3 separate regions of the Homo sapiens genome follow, and regions 1 and 2 are each linked to region 3. Evidence: fine-mapped expression QTL. A gene starts in region 3. Each other region holds a variant in brackets. All regions are shown on one strand. Distances are between the middles of the regions. Region 1 has its middle 20 kb from the start of MGAT5. Region 2 overlaps MGAT5 (alpha-1,6-mannosylglycoprotein 6-beta-N-acetylglucosaminyltransferase). Region 3 holds the start of MGAT5 (alpha-1,6-mannosylglycoprotein 6-beta-N-acetylglucosaminyltransferase).

The links. PIP is the estimated chance that this variant, and not a neighbour inherited with it, causes the effect.
Region 1: its variant is the best candidate, but not a certain one, in a credible set for the expression of MGAT5 in whole blood (INTERVAL, PIP 0.66).
Region 2: its variant is the best candidate, but not a certain one, in a credible set for the expression of MGAT5 in activated naive CD4 T cells (Schmiedel 2018, PIP 0.89).

What each region holds. Positions count from the first base shown.
Region 1 is chr2:134,231,420-134,237,331 of GRCh38, reverse strand. It overlaps a transcript of MGAT5 not described here. Among named protein-coding and RNA genes, the nearest start is that of MGAT5, 20 kb to the left of the region's middle. The variant T/C (reference allele first, on the strand shown) is at 3,879.
Region 2 is chr2:134,293,529-134,299,564 of GRCh38, reverse strand. All of the region lies in intron 2 of MGAT5 (alpha-1,6-mannosylglycoprotein 6-beta-N-acetylglucosaminyltransferase), which reads right to left. Among named protein-coding and RNA genes, the nearest start is that of MGAT5, 42 kb to the right of the region's middle. The variant T/C (reference allele first, on the strand shown) is at 3,078.
Region 3 is chr2:134,251,092-134,256,091 of GRCh38, reverse strand. It overlaps MGAT5 (alpha-1,6-mannosylglycoprotein 6-beta-N-acetylglucosaminyltransferase), which reads right to left and starts at 2,020. Exons shown (of 16, transcript NM_002410.5): 1 at 1,448-2,020. The coding sequence starts at 1,688. RefSeq lists an enhancer at 4,875-4,964.

The DNA.
Region 1 (5,912 bases), 19 kb after region 3:
GGTGTCTTGCCTCCCATGACAGAGAGTAGAATCCAGAATGGCTGAGTGGGAAGTCTCACACGAGGGACTTAATTTCAGAGACATTAGGAGGCACAAGTAAAATTTAGGCAGTGAGCAAAACAATTCTTTTAGGGCTCAGCAGCCAAGTACAGACCAAGAGGGTAAAAATTCACACACACGCGCACACACACACACACACACACACACATATACTCCTTCTACATAACCTACCTATCCTACCTACCTCAAACTTGCAAAGGCTATCCTGAGGAAAAGGAGAGATTACTAGCACATTTGTTAGTTTAGAAAGATATCAAATCTTACTATTTTTCTCTTGCAATTATATTAAAGTGACATTAGAGTATCTTCCACAGGATGAAAACTATATAAAAGGGTGATAAGAGGCCAACTAGAGAGTTGCAACCTCATCAGACAAATATTCATGGAAGGGGCTTACTGGGTGCTCCCAATGATGCTAAAGTTTTGAGGAGAAAACACTGAGGGTACAAGACAGAGTCCCTGCACTTAGAAACATCCTCCAACCATGCACACACCCACCACCACTCCCACAGAGCAGCCAGAACATGCTGAAATCAGGGGCCCTATTGGCGTGTCCCTGTATTAGTCTGTTCTCACACTGCTAATAAAGACATACCCGAGACTGGGTAATTTATAAAGGAAAGAGGTTTGACTCACAGTTCAGCATGGCTGCCAAGGCCTCAGGGAAGGGGAAGCAAACATGTCCTTCTTCACATGGTGGCAGCAAGAAGTGCCAAGCAAAAGGGGGGGGAAGGTCCCTATAAAACCATTAGATCTTGTAAGAACTCACTATCATGAGAACAGCATAAGGGTAACCGTCTCTGTGATTAAATTACCTCCCACGACACATGTGGATTATGGGAACTACTAAGATGAGATTTGGGTGGGGACACAGCCAAACCATATCAGAGACTCTTTTGGGCTGCAGAGAAGCCTCAAGAGGTTTCATGGAGATCCTGTGGCCTAAACTGGGTCTCATCCCTTCATATCTCTCCAACTAATCTCAAGGTCCAGGCTAAACACCAGGAATAAAAGGTGAAGAAAAAGAAGTTCCTGGAACCACTGCCTGCAAGCTCCAAGCTTTCTCTGCAGTCATGGGACCCGTGAAGAACAACTCTGAACACTGCGCAGAGTTACAGGGCTAGGGGCAGAGCTTTGAACAAGCCACATCTCAAAACTTTGGTTTTGTATGCCCATAAAATTAAGCAGCAGAAATAGGTGGTGTCTGAGGCTCTTCCATTTTCAACTTAACTGAGAAAAACAGGTCTGTATTTTCCAGCTACTTGGATGTTTTCACTACTTCAGAATGATGACACTCACAGCCTAGAATGTGATCGTGGTAGGAAGGGGAGGGGGAGCAAGACAGAAACTGAGTTACAGTGAGAATTATAGATGAATGAAGTCATTATGCAAAACAGAAAACCAAAGCTAATTTGACTGTGCCCCCTCCCCTTTTATCCCTTGCCTCAAATACACTAAATCTATGTCACTTGCCTCTCATGACCACTAGATTTATAAGCCCATTAAAAATACTTCTATAATCACTCCATGCAAAAAAAAAAAACCCCTATTATTATTACAATGATTTAAATCCCTACAGCAGTACAGCAGGATCTGGGGTGGGGAGAGTTTATTAATACCTTAGCAAAACGTGCCATGAATACACCATTTGGATATTCATTTTTTTAAAGTGCCCTGATTTTTCCCAGGGTGTTCAGTTAACATTTAGCTCATGGTGTTACCGGCCCTGTCGATTGGGTTAGGTTATTTTCCTCAATTCCTCTGCTCTGTGGCTCTTCTCTCTCTCCATCAAAACCCACCCAAGGATCAAGCTGAGGTACTCGTTTCTCAACCCTCACTGGGTATCACGATCATGTTGGAAGACGTTTTAAATACAAATGGTAGCCCTCCCCAAGATCATAATTCAATTGGTCTACACAGGGCCAGGAAAGCAGTATAATTTAAAGCAATCCCAAGAGACTCTAAGGTGCAGTCAGAGTTGAGAACTATTGATCTAAGATAACCACCTTCCCAGGCAGATAAGTGGGTAGAAGGGTACTGAGGGAAGAGAAACAGGTATGAGGTCGGGGAGCATGGCAGGGGAGACAGGGGCTGTGTTGAACCAAAGACCAGGCACCCCTCTGATAGGGCAGCCACTTCTCAGCTCTAACCACCAGACAACTTGAGCTAAGACAGCCTGGGTTAGCTAGATCTTCCAATTTTCCAAAGAAGCCAGAAACCCAGAGTTTTGGTCAAATCTGTGTATTCTTAAATGCTGGTGCTAATTTAGATTAAAAAAAAAATTCTGGTGGTCCAAATAAAACGCATCTGCAACCTTCCTTACAACCACCACCCTAAGCACTTGAAGCTGGGGAGTCTTATAAAAAGACTGAGGCAAATATACAAGACCTTGAATTGAAGGCAGTTTACAATCTCACTCACCTGCTCAGTCCACCTCATGACAGGTGTCTGTTACTTTATCCTAATTGCTCAACTATTCTGGACTTTCTAAACAGCAGCTGGTATTGTTCTCAAATATTGACTTCTGCTAATCACTTTCAAAGGATTCTGAGCACTGGCTTCCAGCCCTCATTCACCACCCAACACAAGCTTGTGACTTAGTCACACCTTATTGCTAATCCCAAGAAACGAAGGGAATTTAAAAGCACCTGGTGAGAGAGAAGCAGGCCTCAGAATCCAGAAAGCCTAAGTGACTTGCCCAGGGCCACAAAGACTGTCAAGGTAGGGTGAACAAACTTGTCCCCGTTGGTCACCCTAGTTGAAGGACAGAGCCACATTGCTGTGTCTTATGTATGGACCCCCATAGTCTTATAATTCTTGATATATACATACATTTGACTTTTAGCTTTATGATCTGCTCCCTGTTGAGACTCAAACTTCTTGAAGGAAGAGATTCAAATCTTTCTGTGAACTAACTACTTAATATCTGTTGGGAAAAGTCCTTGTAGCCCCCTTGGTTAATAAAGATGGCTGCTGGTGGTGCCCTTGCAAACTATAGGCATCACTGCTCTAGGAGTCTCTTGGAAGAACCTGTAAGTCTTGACTCCCACCAACCCCTGCCCCCAATCCCCGGCTTCCTTCTCAGCCCCCAACTACTTCATCACATCAATAACAAAGTATGAGAAACACAGAAAAATGAAACACATGAGCAACTTTCAACTGACTGTTTCCTTCTCTCTTTAGACCACAAAGTCTCCCTGCTCTAATGAGATTATTACCCATCATGAAAGGACATAGCATCTAGCGTTCTGATTTCTCCACTCAGAGATACACCTCAGAAGGCAGCTTCTCAGCTGTGAAAGAAGTTGGCCTTTGCAATCCTCTCTTAGAAGTCTGCTTCGGAATTATTCAAGAGAGCCAGAGTCAAACCTAGAGTGTTGTGCATGAATAGAGAGGCAATCTGGTGTGGCAGAGAGGCTTGGGAATTAGATTCAGATTAAAATCTCTGCACTGACATAAGCCAGCCCTGTGCCCTCTTGAAGTTACAGAAATGAAGATCCAGTTTCCTTATCTGTAAAATGTCTACCTGCAGGGTTTAAATTTGCAAAGGGCCTAGTCTAGTGACCGATCCTTGATGAGAGTTACTGGAGAAGTCTCATGACTCCTACAATGAGCCCCAGAGGCCTCTGTGAGTAAGGTGGAAGGACCTAGCCTTCTGCCTGATCTAAATACATTAAGATCTGCCTTTGCTGACCTAGTTTTATTCTAAAGCAGTTGTGGTTTTCTTTCTTCCCTTCAGTTCCTTTTCTCAAAGGATGTAAGCATATCTGTGTGAAACACATAAAAAAAATGCACCAAGTGTCAGCAAAATGTTACTG[T/C]AACTGATAAAAAGGCATTTTCTATCTTGTCCATCAGTTTTGATGAGGAAGCAAAGCAGACTAGCCCAATTCCTAGCATTGGTAAAGATTGCTACTTCAAAGAATTTTCTGGGTCAGCACCTAAAAGTCTGAAATCCATTCCACTGAATTCATTATGACCCATAGTAATACCCCATCTCTCAAAGCAAAACTACACTGTGATTCATTGCATAGAGCCATTCCCTGGTAGACACTATATTTTAGACTTATGAATAAAACAAGTACAGAAAACAAAATAAAACACAGAACCAGCCCTGTACCCTTATATTTTACAATCTACAAAAAACAAAGTCAGATTTACACATACCTGGAAAACAACTCACGATGACATCATTTTAAGCTAACTGAATCTTGGATTCAAGAAGAATCAATGTCTATACTATTCTTCTAGCATAAAACCTGTTGTGGCAGTTTTAACTTTTTAACTTAAGAAAGTTATGACCTTAGGTCACTAGACAGAATTACATTACTCAAATGTATTCTTGGCAAACTCTTTGGGGATATAATTCACTCTGCAAGGAAAAACTGGTAATTGCCACCAATATCTCACACACATGTACATACAAGAAGACACACCATAACACACCATAACAACCACCACCCACAGAATCAAGAAGACCCATGCCATTCTTAAATGAAAATGTGCACCAGTTAAGAAATAATCTAACATCTCAGGTTAGCAGGAAGTGCCACACTCCAACCTAACAAGAAAAATGGGCATTAAAAAAACATTACATAGGTCTGTGGTCTATTAACAGTAACCTGTTAGTATCAACTTCCTGGTTTGGTATTGTAACAGAGCATGAAATCTGGGGAAGGATGGGTCCGTGGGTCTCTTTGTACTGTTTTTACAACTTCCTGTGAAATTATTTCAAAATAAATTGTTTTCTAAGCATTACTTATTGGGTATCATCCTGTTTGGGGAGATTTTTCAAGATGTAGAAGCCCTTTCCCAAGGCCCCTCTTCAGCTAATGGGTCCAGAATAGGATATACACCTAAATACTTTGAAAAGGGTTCTGGTTCCTAGATGATCTGAAACTCCTCCCCTGTTGAGTAAGAACCACCACCAAATGGCAGGTAAATCACTGAAGACATTTAACAGTGCTGAGGCCACCATATTTGATATTGGCTGCTGTGTAGAGGATGGGTTTGAAGGGTGGCTCATGAAAATCCGGGTGAGAAATGAGTCCAATAAAGGCCTGAACAGGGTAGTGGCAGTCCAGTCATAATAAGAAACCAAATGCTAGAAATACTTAAGAGGTCAAATCAGCAGGACAGTGGGCAATGACTAACTGGAAGGAATGAGGGAAGACGAGGAGGAGGAGGAGGAGTATAGAATGACCACTAGGCTTCCAGCTTGGGCAGCTGAGGAAAAGGTGACATGTCATTCACCAAGACAGGAAAATGGAGGAGCTGGTTTGTGAGGGAGGATGGCTGCCTGAAGCTTCCACAGAGCAATAGTACTATATCATATATTGCAGACAGAACGATCTTTGTCTAGAGAGGTAATTCCTTCTTCCTCAACTCACTGGGTGTAAAGTACCAGGGGACAGACAACTCGGCACAGCAGGCAAGAAGGACCAGCCACTACTCAGCCATGTCAGCCACTTGGCCCCGCCCTGGTCTGATCATTTTCACAGCCAGCCACAAACCCAGTGATCTTTCCCCAAATACCTCCAGTGGGTAGAGAGCTACTCAACCAAGCTGCTCCCCACAGGTTCTAGAGGGTCTGGGTTTCTAACATTTCTATTAAAAGAACTCCAGAGGGTGAATGAGGGAAATCATCCATCAATAAATCAAGCAACTAATTATTTCACTTTGCCATAATCTCTTTAAGAAATGGTGTTCCAAAGTGAAAGGAAGAATTCCACATGAGAAGACATCAAGACAGCCTATGAAGATCTTGACATAGGAATTTGTACATTGCTACACAGGAAGCATTTACCACCCACCACAGAGGAATGCAGTTTATTTGATAATTATTTGTCTAGGTT
Region 2 (6,036 bases), 43 kb before region 3:
GATCCTGATTCAGACACACTGCATTTTAAAAAACAAAAAAGCTACAAAACCTTAAATACAAATCTCACTTCAATTTATTCAACTTGATGAAGGTTGCAATTAGCATTCCAAACCCTACCTTACCTGCAGGCCTAGCTCAAGCTCTCCTCTATCTGTGAAACTTCACAAGAGTACTCCAGCTCGCACAGGTACTTCCAGGGTGCCTGTGAACACCTATAAAATTTTTAGTCTATACTGAACAATCTAAAACTAAAAATCTGGTGTTGGCTTTGACCATCCTCTAATTGGAATTTGTTTGTGTGCAGAAATGCACATACCTACAAAGACTGCAAAGCCAGTGAGACCAACTTCCACAAAGTCAGTGGCCATGTGTCAGTCTGCTTTTGTATGCTCCAGAATAACACTGGCTCACAGAATTGACAGAGATTTTGTGGACTACAGATGATGATAGTGGTATTGACGCTTGGAAAGATATAAATTCTAGGGAAGAAGAAGAAACGATGGGCAAGTGTTTTTGGGCAAGAAGGAAAAGTACAATTGGGAAGATCTAGGTAAGAATATTATTCTCAAATGGGACACTAACTTTCACAAGAAAGCAGAAGAATTCTTATCTTCTAAATGTGACTTCCTTCTTCTTCCATTCTTCTTTTGACTTTTTCATTCAGAGGGAAGGTACAGTCTTAAATTGCTTTCATGCTTCCTGCCTGGAATCGTCTTTCATACAGAACACTCAACCAGCCCCAATCCCAACCCATGGTTCCTGCCTACATAAACACACTCAACCATCACCATTATGAACTACCTCTTCTCCAATTCCTATCCTAGACTAAGCTCTCAAGTATACTTCTGATCACATCTAATCAAAAGAGACTCCAGGAGACCACCCAAACCATCTGCAGTACCAAATTTATTGAAAACACCTTCCAACATCTGGAAATTCACAACTATATTTAGTTGATGTTGAATTATGATAAACAAGGATTTGTTACAACAGAATATGATCCGCATGGTGTCTAACTGCCCTAACAGCTCCTCTGATTTGCTGATCATTCTTAGGAGTGGAAAAAATATAAGTGACATAACTTATTATGAAAAGAAATAGTGTTCTAACTCTACATTTTTTATAAACACCATAATTTTTATTTGGTGATAAATAATACAGAGATAGGCCAGGCATGGTGGCTCACGCTTGTAATCCCAGTACTTTGGGAGGCCGAGGCAGGTAGATCACTTGAGGTCGGGAGTTCAAGACGAGCCTGGCCAACATGGTGAAACATCGTCTCTACAAAAAATACAAAAAAATGAGCCAGGTATGGTAGCATATGTCTGTAATCTCAGCTACTTGGGAGGCTGAGGTAGGAGAATTGCTTGAACCCAGGAGGCGGAGGTGGCAGTGAGCCAAGAGTACGCTATTGCACTCCAGCCTGGGAGACAGAGTGAGATCCTGTTTCAAAAATAATAATACAGAGATAATATTTTTCTCTATTATTTATACAAATAATTCAACATTAACCCAAAGAAATACACGTTCATACTCTAAAAGAAAATAACTGGTTTTAGAACCTCAATTTAGCTAAACAGAAAACAGAACAAAACTTAAGGATCTAGTAGACTTATTTTTTTAACCTATATTTGTTTTCCTCAATTTTTATCAGAAAAAAATTTGAAACATACACAAGGATACAGAGAATGATACAACAAATCCCTTCTACCCATCACTTAACTTCAACAGTTAACAAATATATTATTGAATAGAAGTGGCAAGAGTGAACAGCCTTGCCATTTTCCTAATCTTAGGAGAAAAAAAAAATTAAACAGTTCTTTTCTAGTAAGTATGATGTTAACCTGTATGTTTTTCCTAGTTTGTTGAGAATTGCTTTCATGAATCAGATTTTCTCAAATGCTTTTCTGCTTATATTAAGGTAACATGATTTCTGACCTTTGTTCTATTATGGAGTATTATATTAATAGATTTCTGAATGTTAAACCAACCTTGTGTTTCTAGAATAAATTCCAATTGTTCATTATATATAACCCTTTTCATATGTTGCCAAATTTGGGGTTCTAATATTTTAAGAATTTGTGTCAGTGTTTATAGGAGTTCATGGTCTGTTGTTCACTTGTGATGTCTTTGTCTAGCTTTGGTAACAGGGTGTTACTGGCAGAATGAATTGCAAGGTATTCCCTCCTTCTATATTTCATGGAAGAATCTGTGAAGAATCAGTGTCATTTCCTCTTAACATACCTAAAAGAATTCACCAGTGAAGCCATCTGAGCATGGGTTTTTCTTTGTAGGAAAAGTTCTAATTATTAGTTCAAATTCTTTGTTATTGAGCTATTCAGATGATTTTTTTTTTTTTTTTTTTTTGAGACCAGGTCTCAGTCTGTTGCCCAAGCTGGACTGTAGGGGCACAATCAAGGCTCACTGCAATCTTAATCTCCTGGGCTCAAGTGATTCTCCCACCTCAGCCTCCCAAGTAGCTAGGACCACAAGTGTGTGTCACCACACCCAGCTAATTTTATTTTTTGTAGATAATGGGGTCTCACTGTGTTGCCCAGGCTGATCTTAAACTCTTGGTTTCAAGCACTCCTCCCGCCTCTGCCTCCCAAAGTGCTAGAATTACAGGTATGAGCCACTCCACCCCACCTTCAGATGATTTTGAGTCAGTACAGATTGTGTCTAGGAATTTTTCCATGTCATCAAAGTTGTGTCATTTCATAGTATGAACTTATTCATTGTATTACCTTGTAATCTTTTACATTTATTTTAAATTTCTGCAATCTTCCCTTTTTTGGATTCTATATCTCATAACATTTGAATGCATATTTTTTTTCCTAATCAAATGTCAAGTCTATCTTAACAAAGTAAAATAACAGAAGAAAGAGAGGTTAAGTGGAATAGATTACAATGTCTGCAGAAACAAGGTCAGTTGTATAAAAAGATTTTCTATTTTTTACTGTCTCTTATGTACTTTATAAGACTAAGGAAAGTGGTTTTCTTTCAAGTACTATAATTAATTCCTGGGGTGAAAGGGAAAAACAAGACAAGGGGAAAAAAAGAGGAAGCAAAAGAACCA[T/C]AGGTTTAGTCATATGCTACAAAGGAAAAAAAAAGAATATTTAACCTTCCATCAATAAAAACTTGAAGCCAAGGATAAAAAGAACAGGAAATTCACAAAAACTGTTAAGAGCCAGGCAGCCACTCCCTCGATACCAAACCAAGTAATTTAATATTCGGCATTTCTTTAATGCCCATAAATTCCAGAAACTGACTCCCAGGTCCAGCTAGTTTTATATGGTGGTAATAACTTTTAAAATTGTGTGTTATTTTTTAAATTCCATGTGTCCATCCCCAATTCTCTGACACAGCCACAAAGAAAACATGGTAACTAAACTAGAGTCGACTTGGCCTACCCAGCTACATGAAATTCCATGAGTTTAGTCTGTTTCCCATCCTCCTCTTTACCCCACCTCTTGGCCTAAACCGCCAAGATCACAGTATTTCAAGAGTCAAAATTCAAATAAGAACAAACATGTTTGCATGAGGCTGCCAAACACTCCTAGATGAAATCCTCTTCCCTTCCAAAGAATTTTACCTCTAATTTCCACCTCCCAAATAAAAATTGTAGTTATTTTTGGGTTGCACTACAAATAATAAAACCACAGATTCTTAGGGTTCAGAAGGAATGCTGTAAATCCACCGAACCCATCTCCCCACCCTTAAGCACTGTTTAGATTAAGACAGGGGAGTATCTGTTATATTAAGGCAAGAGGCTGAACTGAAACAGACTGCAACTTGGTATAATTCAAGCTTCCCAAAACCATTCCTGTCAGGTAGCAAAGCTGACCAAACAGTATTCCTGATGGTTCCAATAGAAACTCCGAACAGCCCTTTCCTGTTTGGCTGCAGCCAGCAACAGCACAGAAGAGCCACAAGCCAGCCACTACTGGCTGTTCTTGTCATCCTCGAAGAGAATCTGGGTGACAAGTCGAAATGGAATGAATACCCTTAAAGTGACAACAAAACTCCCTACTAAAATTATGACTGAGAATAAAAGAGAAGGCTAATCCAGAGGGAAAAATATTTTCAACATCATTGAAGATTTTTTTCCAATTATAACTTATTTCGCAGCTCTTATGTTTGGAAATTACTGCAAGAGGATCCTAAGATACCACATTTTCCCTGCCTAAGTGAAGAAAGCCACACAGTTGATTGGGCCTACTAAGCTCCCAATTCCACTGCCAACCTTAGTCACTTCTAGCACAATCCAGTTCTATTATGGCTATATTCAACTTGTAAGTACTTTCACCATAGTTTCTAGATTTTTCTGGCCATTCTCATTGTTCTTTTCTGGCATCTTCGAACCACTGAAGAGCCATCAAATGTCAATCAACATAAGGAACATCTAAACTATATACTAAAACCTACTGTTAGAAATGCTTGTTCCTCGGTGCAATAAAGAAATAGCACTTGAACATAAATTTAATTTCCTTAGCAAGGCCATTTTTACTTTCTACAGAAAGGGTACACTTGCCAGCAGTTTTGCCACGATAGTACACCGAACAAAGGAGGCAGGGTCATTTATAAGTTGACGCGTCCACCTTACTGCTGTGTCCAGTTTCCATTGGCTGGAACAGGACCTCACATTCTGTATTTGTCCTGATTGGCTAGCAACTTAGAACATTTTAAAAGAGGCAAAGGCAGAGGAGAACAAAGGAAAGAGGAAGTAACTTGTGAAATGCTGAGAAAGGTAAAAACACATTTAAATAAGGAAGAGGAACAGACTATGACCTAATGCTTGCTTGGACCAGTATAAACATACTTATAAGCAAATATTTAGGCTAAATTGTGGGAGCTAAGAACATAAAGTACATTGATTTCTTTATTACGGCTAGCAGATATTTAAGAATGTTAGCACAGGTCTTTGAATAAATTTTGCTTCTAAGAGAAGTTACTATTTATTCTTAATTAGACGGGGAGGAAAGTCTTTGAAGAGGAACCTCTATTTTTTACACCTACCTTCTATAAAACCAAGCCCTTGGCATTCACAACTACAAATCCCCTTACACAGAACTTGACCTGCAGTGGTATATACCTGGAACAAAAATCCTTGGTTAGACTGTATGTATTTCTAAATTTGTCTCAGAAATATGAACATCATACCCCGAATACTTAGTCTTAGTGGTTTGTGAGGCAAAATCACCCAGCAGCTCCAAAAAGCCCCTACGTTAAGACCTTATATTAAGACTTGGAAACATGAAAATAAAAATAAAAACACTGAAAACAAAAAGTTACTTTACTGCCAGTGCAGAGATCTTCCCATGACTTAACAGGTCTATGGGGCTAAACCGCAGAGAACAATGGATGCCTTATTTACCTGATGATGCCTAAAACAGTGCAGAATAGCCACCCTGGAAGGTAGAATAAAACTTCTCTCTCCTCCATTTGCCTCCTCACTCAGAGGCAAAAGATTTGAGGCTGTAAGAAAAGTGACACATCTTTACACTGAACATGCAGTGCTCCATGAGGCAATCTTTTCTAGATCCACCTAAAACAACTACGAGGAGTCTGGGAAGCCAACGAACAAAGGGGGCAAGTTACCTGCCTAGGATGTGGTCCAGCCCTCCTACCTCCCTACTCTGTTTCACATCCTCCACACACTTCTGTATGAGGAGAGGAGATGGTCTCATTTCATGCTAGCAAAGCCATAGTCGCAGACCTGGGAGCCATCACACATCATGGTGTCAGCCAACTGCAGACTCAAGGGGTTTGGCTGCTATCAAAATCTATAGTTTTCCAGCTTGGCTTTTCTTCAATTTAAAGCAAGGAAGCACTTTCGGAGGCCGAGACAGGTAGATCGCTTGAGCTCAGGAGTTTGAGACCAGCCTGGGCAACATGGTGAAATCTCATCTCTACGAAAAATACAAAAAATTAGCCAGGCATGGTGGTGTATACCTATAGCTCCAGCTACTCAGGAGGCTGAGGTGGGAGGATCACTTGAGCCTGGTGGGCAGAGGTTGCAGTGAACCCAGATCGCA
Region 3 (5,000 bases):
CAGACACTTTTAACAGATTAAATGCAGAGTGTGATTATTTACATAGTAAGAACTAGAAAAGAATTTCTAAAATGTTCCTCAGAAGTAAGCATCTTCTAATATATACACATACACACACACACATACACATACGTGTGTATAAAATTTTACATACTTTTTTAAAAACAAGTTTTTTTCCCCTTTTGGAAAGAAAGAAGCACATGTATAACTGAGTATGATTTCCTGTGTCTGAACTCAACCTGCACTGAACTGAACTGTTGCTGCACATTTTTGGGAATCACGATTTGAAATCGGCATACTTCAGGGCACCTTCCTTGAGTGGGTCACAAAACACAACTCCACTTTCTCCACCTCACCTAACCCCATTCTTGCATCTCATCTATACTATCAGGGAGACCACTTCAGTGAGACCACTGAAACCTCAATTCAATGATCAGACTCTTGTCACTCAACAACAGGTCATCTTCTACAGACCAAGTCTGCTCTGCAAAACACAGCATGATCTAAATTCCATTTGCAATTTTTTTCCAAGTATTTGTGTGTGTATGTGTATGTATATATATATGTGTGTGTATATATATATGTGTATATATGTGTATATATATGTATATATGTATATATATGTATATATATATTTGTGTGTGTATGCAAAGTATCAGAAAAATACACACTGAAATGTTAATTGTGGTTATTGCCTGGAGTAGTAGACTTATGTGTAATTTTTTTCTTTTTTTGCTTGTCTACAGCTTCCAACTTTTTCTATATTAAACATAAAAGAAAAATAAGTTACATCCCATATGTGTATTTTTTTACTCTTTCTGATTTCAAAAAGAATTCTGAAAAAAATTCTTTAAAGAAAAAGCAACAAGTACACAAAGATTCCTTTCAAAGTGAGGGCAGTTAGAGACAAGGGCAAGAAGAAGAGCAACATAACCTCAAGAAGCCAAAGGTTAAAACTCACCAGCATGCAAGTGCCAGTGTCATATTTATTGGCTGGAGGGAGGAACACAATTGGCTCTAAGTTTACTGGCTTCCATAGAACATTCCTCCCCATCCTCTTCACCTCACCCCCACCAGCCTTAATTAAGTTTTGTTTAGGGAAAGATGAGAATATTTTTCAGCATTCCCTGAACTCACTCCCACATGAGATCACATGGTTCCTGAAATGTGTTCAGGGAGAAGGAGCTAGCTGCAAACACAACCAATAGAGCCCTAACTATACTAACCCACTGACTCCAGGGGAAAGTGTGTCTGCATACACCAGCTCAGAACCCCCAAAATGGCATTGCTTTAATTTCCTAAAGATGCCTCTCTGTGTGCAATTCACTGCTTATGAAGGCAGTGGCAAAGGACATTCAGTCCATGACAAGACCATATCTGGGAGCTTCTAGGGCCATTTCAAGGCCAAGGCACACTTTAATGGAGAGGTCCCAGAAACAGTGCTTACCATAAGCTGTCATGACTCCAGCGTATGGCCCATCCACCACATTCCTGTTTTCTTCTGCCAGTGCCTTGATGTACCTTTTGCTGAGGTCCAGGATCTGCTCGCGCAGCATGGAGCTGCTTTCAGGCTGAGTTCGCTGCTGGATGGTAAAGTGCAGAAGCATCATACCCCAAATGAAGCCAAAAGTCACCAGGAAAAAGCCCAGCTTCTGAGAGGACAACTTCCACGGAGTGAAGAGAGCCATTGCTCTCTGGCAACTTCACCTGTCCTTGGCTCTTAACGCGTAGAAGATAGACACAAATTCATGGTGTAGGTTGAGTGTGAGAGTCTGCTGGTCTCACTCTGGCTCCTGTGTCAGCTGGTTGCCTTTCCTCACTTCCATTCTGCTGTGAAGGAGGAGAAGAATTAGCCAAGTGGTCATGGCACAATACAGCAAAATAAACCAGAAGCCATGTTTTCACTTGAATACCTCTAAGTAAAATGTCAACTCTTAAATTTGCTGGTTCAATATCTTATGATTCAGGAACTGTAAGCTGAGGGGAAATCTGGCTAGGCAACAAGAAGCTAAGCAATTATGAAGGGGGAAGTGTGCGTCTGCGTGTGTTAACAGGTGTAGTGGGGCTGTTCCAGCCTGGACCAAATTCAAAACAGGAAGTTTGTTTTGCAAGGTGGGGAGGAGACAGAAGGATATTTGGCGGAATGTCAGCAAAAACGGGGAGGGTGGAGTCATATCACCATCAGGCCCTTTTGTGTGCCTGTAACTTAAGCTTACAAAGTCATTATTATGTGCTTCTGGCAAGGACTAGAACATGCAACTGGTGAGGTGAGCAAGAAAGTGGATGCCCCCTTGGGGGTAACTAGACAAAGAAGAGGTAGATTGCTACATCTTATTTGAGCATGGCCAGCTTTCACCATCAGTGTTTAGTGATGAGATGGCTCTCTCAGGGCCACCAGGCAACCTCTCTAGGTGCACCAGCACAGAGAAGATATGCCAGAGGTACAAGCAGGGGTATTGCTTTCCCAGCTACATGAGGAAAAGGTACACCTCACTGCTCACTTGCATGCTGTAGCACAAGAAATGTGGAACACCTGGCAGGCAGATTTTCTGTGGTTCTCACTTTCACTCCCACCATGAGGCAAAATGAGACATTAAAAGGCAGAGTAGTTTCAATATTAATGCAGCCAGATCCTATCTAATGCCAGCACAGACCAGGCCACTCTTCTCAATCAGGGCTTCCCAACAAGTAGGACCTGAGCATAGGTTGCAAATGGTTACCAGCATGCCCACCCCTTCAGCCAGAGTCCTGGGCCCAATACCAGTCAGCTTACGAATAGCGCCATTTTCTAAGTGCCACTCAAGGGAGAGGCTGAGCAATGATCCGATCCCTTATAAGAGACTAACCCAGGCTGTACTTCAGAGTGTACATACATGCTTCAGTCAAAGGATTCTTCTTTGCAAGCGGCCCAAAAGAAAATGGTAGCAGGATCTTGAAGCAATTAGCTTTCAGAGCCCTGGATCACTGTTGGTCTGCCTCTTACTGTTTTCCCATTGCCTATCAACAGAGTAAAAATAAATTATAAATTCTAGCTATATCCCAGATATTGTGACATACCATCTTTTGTGGCTTTGCTCACTGAATCCTCAGAAGTTCTATATGGTAAGAAGTATGAATATTATCGTCTCTGTTTTATTAGAAACATGAGAAAATAAAGGTAAAAGGTGATTAACTTGGCAAAGGTCAGCCAGCTATGTGGCAGAGGACTGATCATCTAGGCATGGCCCAGGGGTTATTAAACCATGCCCCACCTTCCCTACATCATCCTCACTCCCCCAACAGCCTGTTTGTATATGGCAGAGAATGATATATATATGCTTAATGGGTCATGAAAAGCAATAAAAAATATGTAACAGATACTCTTTGTAGCCCAGAAGGCCTAAAATATTTACTATCTACCTCTTAACAGAGAAGGTTTGCCAACCTCTCAATTCTAGACCAGTGGTTCTCCAAATGTGGTCCCAAACTCAGTAACAGCAGCATCACCAGTGAGAAATGTGAATTCTCAGGCCCCACCCACACCCACTGAATCAGCAACTGAGGAGATGTGGTCCACAGCCTATCCTTTAACAAGCCTCGAGGTGATTCTGATGCACACTCATGTTTCAGAGCCCTTGACCAGGCAGCCTGATTCCAGACCCATACATTCCATCACTATTCAACACCCACCACAATGCCTATTAAAATGAGGCTCAACCTCTGTCTTGTACTATCATAACGTAAGTTCCTCTGCCCCATCACACCCCTCTCCCACTACGTACCTGCTGGTCTGCTCATTACCATAAACCCTGCACATGCTTCCTGAGAGGCTTCCCCTTCTTCACTCGGCTGCTCCTCCCACCCAGCTGGCACATGAGTGCTCTCTATTATGCTGACAATCAAACCCAGCCTGTTTGCCAGACCCCAGCTCTAGTCCCACCACCTGCCTCAGACCACTTTCCCCAGGGCTCCAGCCTGCAGTGTTCCTTTCCTAGTCTTACAACACTTCTCTGACAATGGAATACTATTCAACCAGAAAAAGAGAGAGAAATCCTGTCTTTTGCAGCAACAGGGATATACCCGAAGGACATTATGCTAAATGAAATAATCCAGGCACAGAAAGGCAACTACCGTACAATCTCACATGCAGAAGCTAAAAAGTTGCTATCATAGGAGATAACAGAACAGTGGTTACCAGGGGTGGGGAGGAGAGAGGGGGATGAGGAGGGAGTGGTCAATGGGTAAAAAGTTACATTTAGGAGGAATAAGTTCTGGTGTTCTATTGCACAGCAAGGTGACTATGGTTAATAATAACGTATATTTCTAAAAGAGACAATTTTAAGTGTTCTCACCACAAAAGTAATAATTATTTGGGGGTGATGTGCATGCTAACTATCCTAATTTGATCATTTCACAATGTATATGTGGATTGAATCTCACATGGTACTCCATTATTATGTATAATTATTGTATCAAATTTAAAAAAATTTTTAAAACAGGGAATAAAGGAGTATTATGAGTTAAAAACACCTGTCTACCTTGGATTGTTCAAAGTTTCTATGTGGGACTCTATGACATCCTTTAGGGAGCCCCTCCCCACACACACACCTTCTCAGAGAAAGGCACTGACCACAGTGGCACAATAAAGTATCTGCTAAATGAATATGTCGCCTAGGGCACTACAGCACTTTATTCAGCCCTTCTAACTGCAGGCCAGCCAACTAGCACCTGCCCTCTTTCCTTCCTCCACTCCGCTCCGCGCCAAGTCTATATTGAGCATGAGCGGCCATCAGGCCCTGGTGACTGAACAGTGAACAAGATGGAGTTTCCACCCCATCAGAATTACACTCTGACAGCCACATTACGAACTAGGTGCTGCACCTAGCTCCAAGGGAATTGGCTTTTTTTTTTTTTGATAACCCATACTCATTACTCATTACTTAATTTTGAACCAGGGCTGAAGGAATTTTCCTAGAGCAAGCCAATGAGGTGCTACATCAAAAAAGGTGATTTTTCTTTCA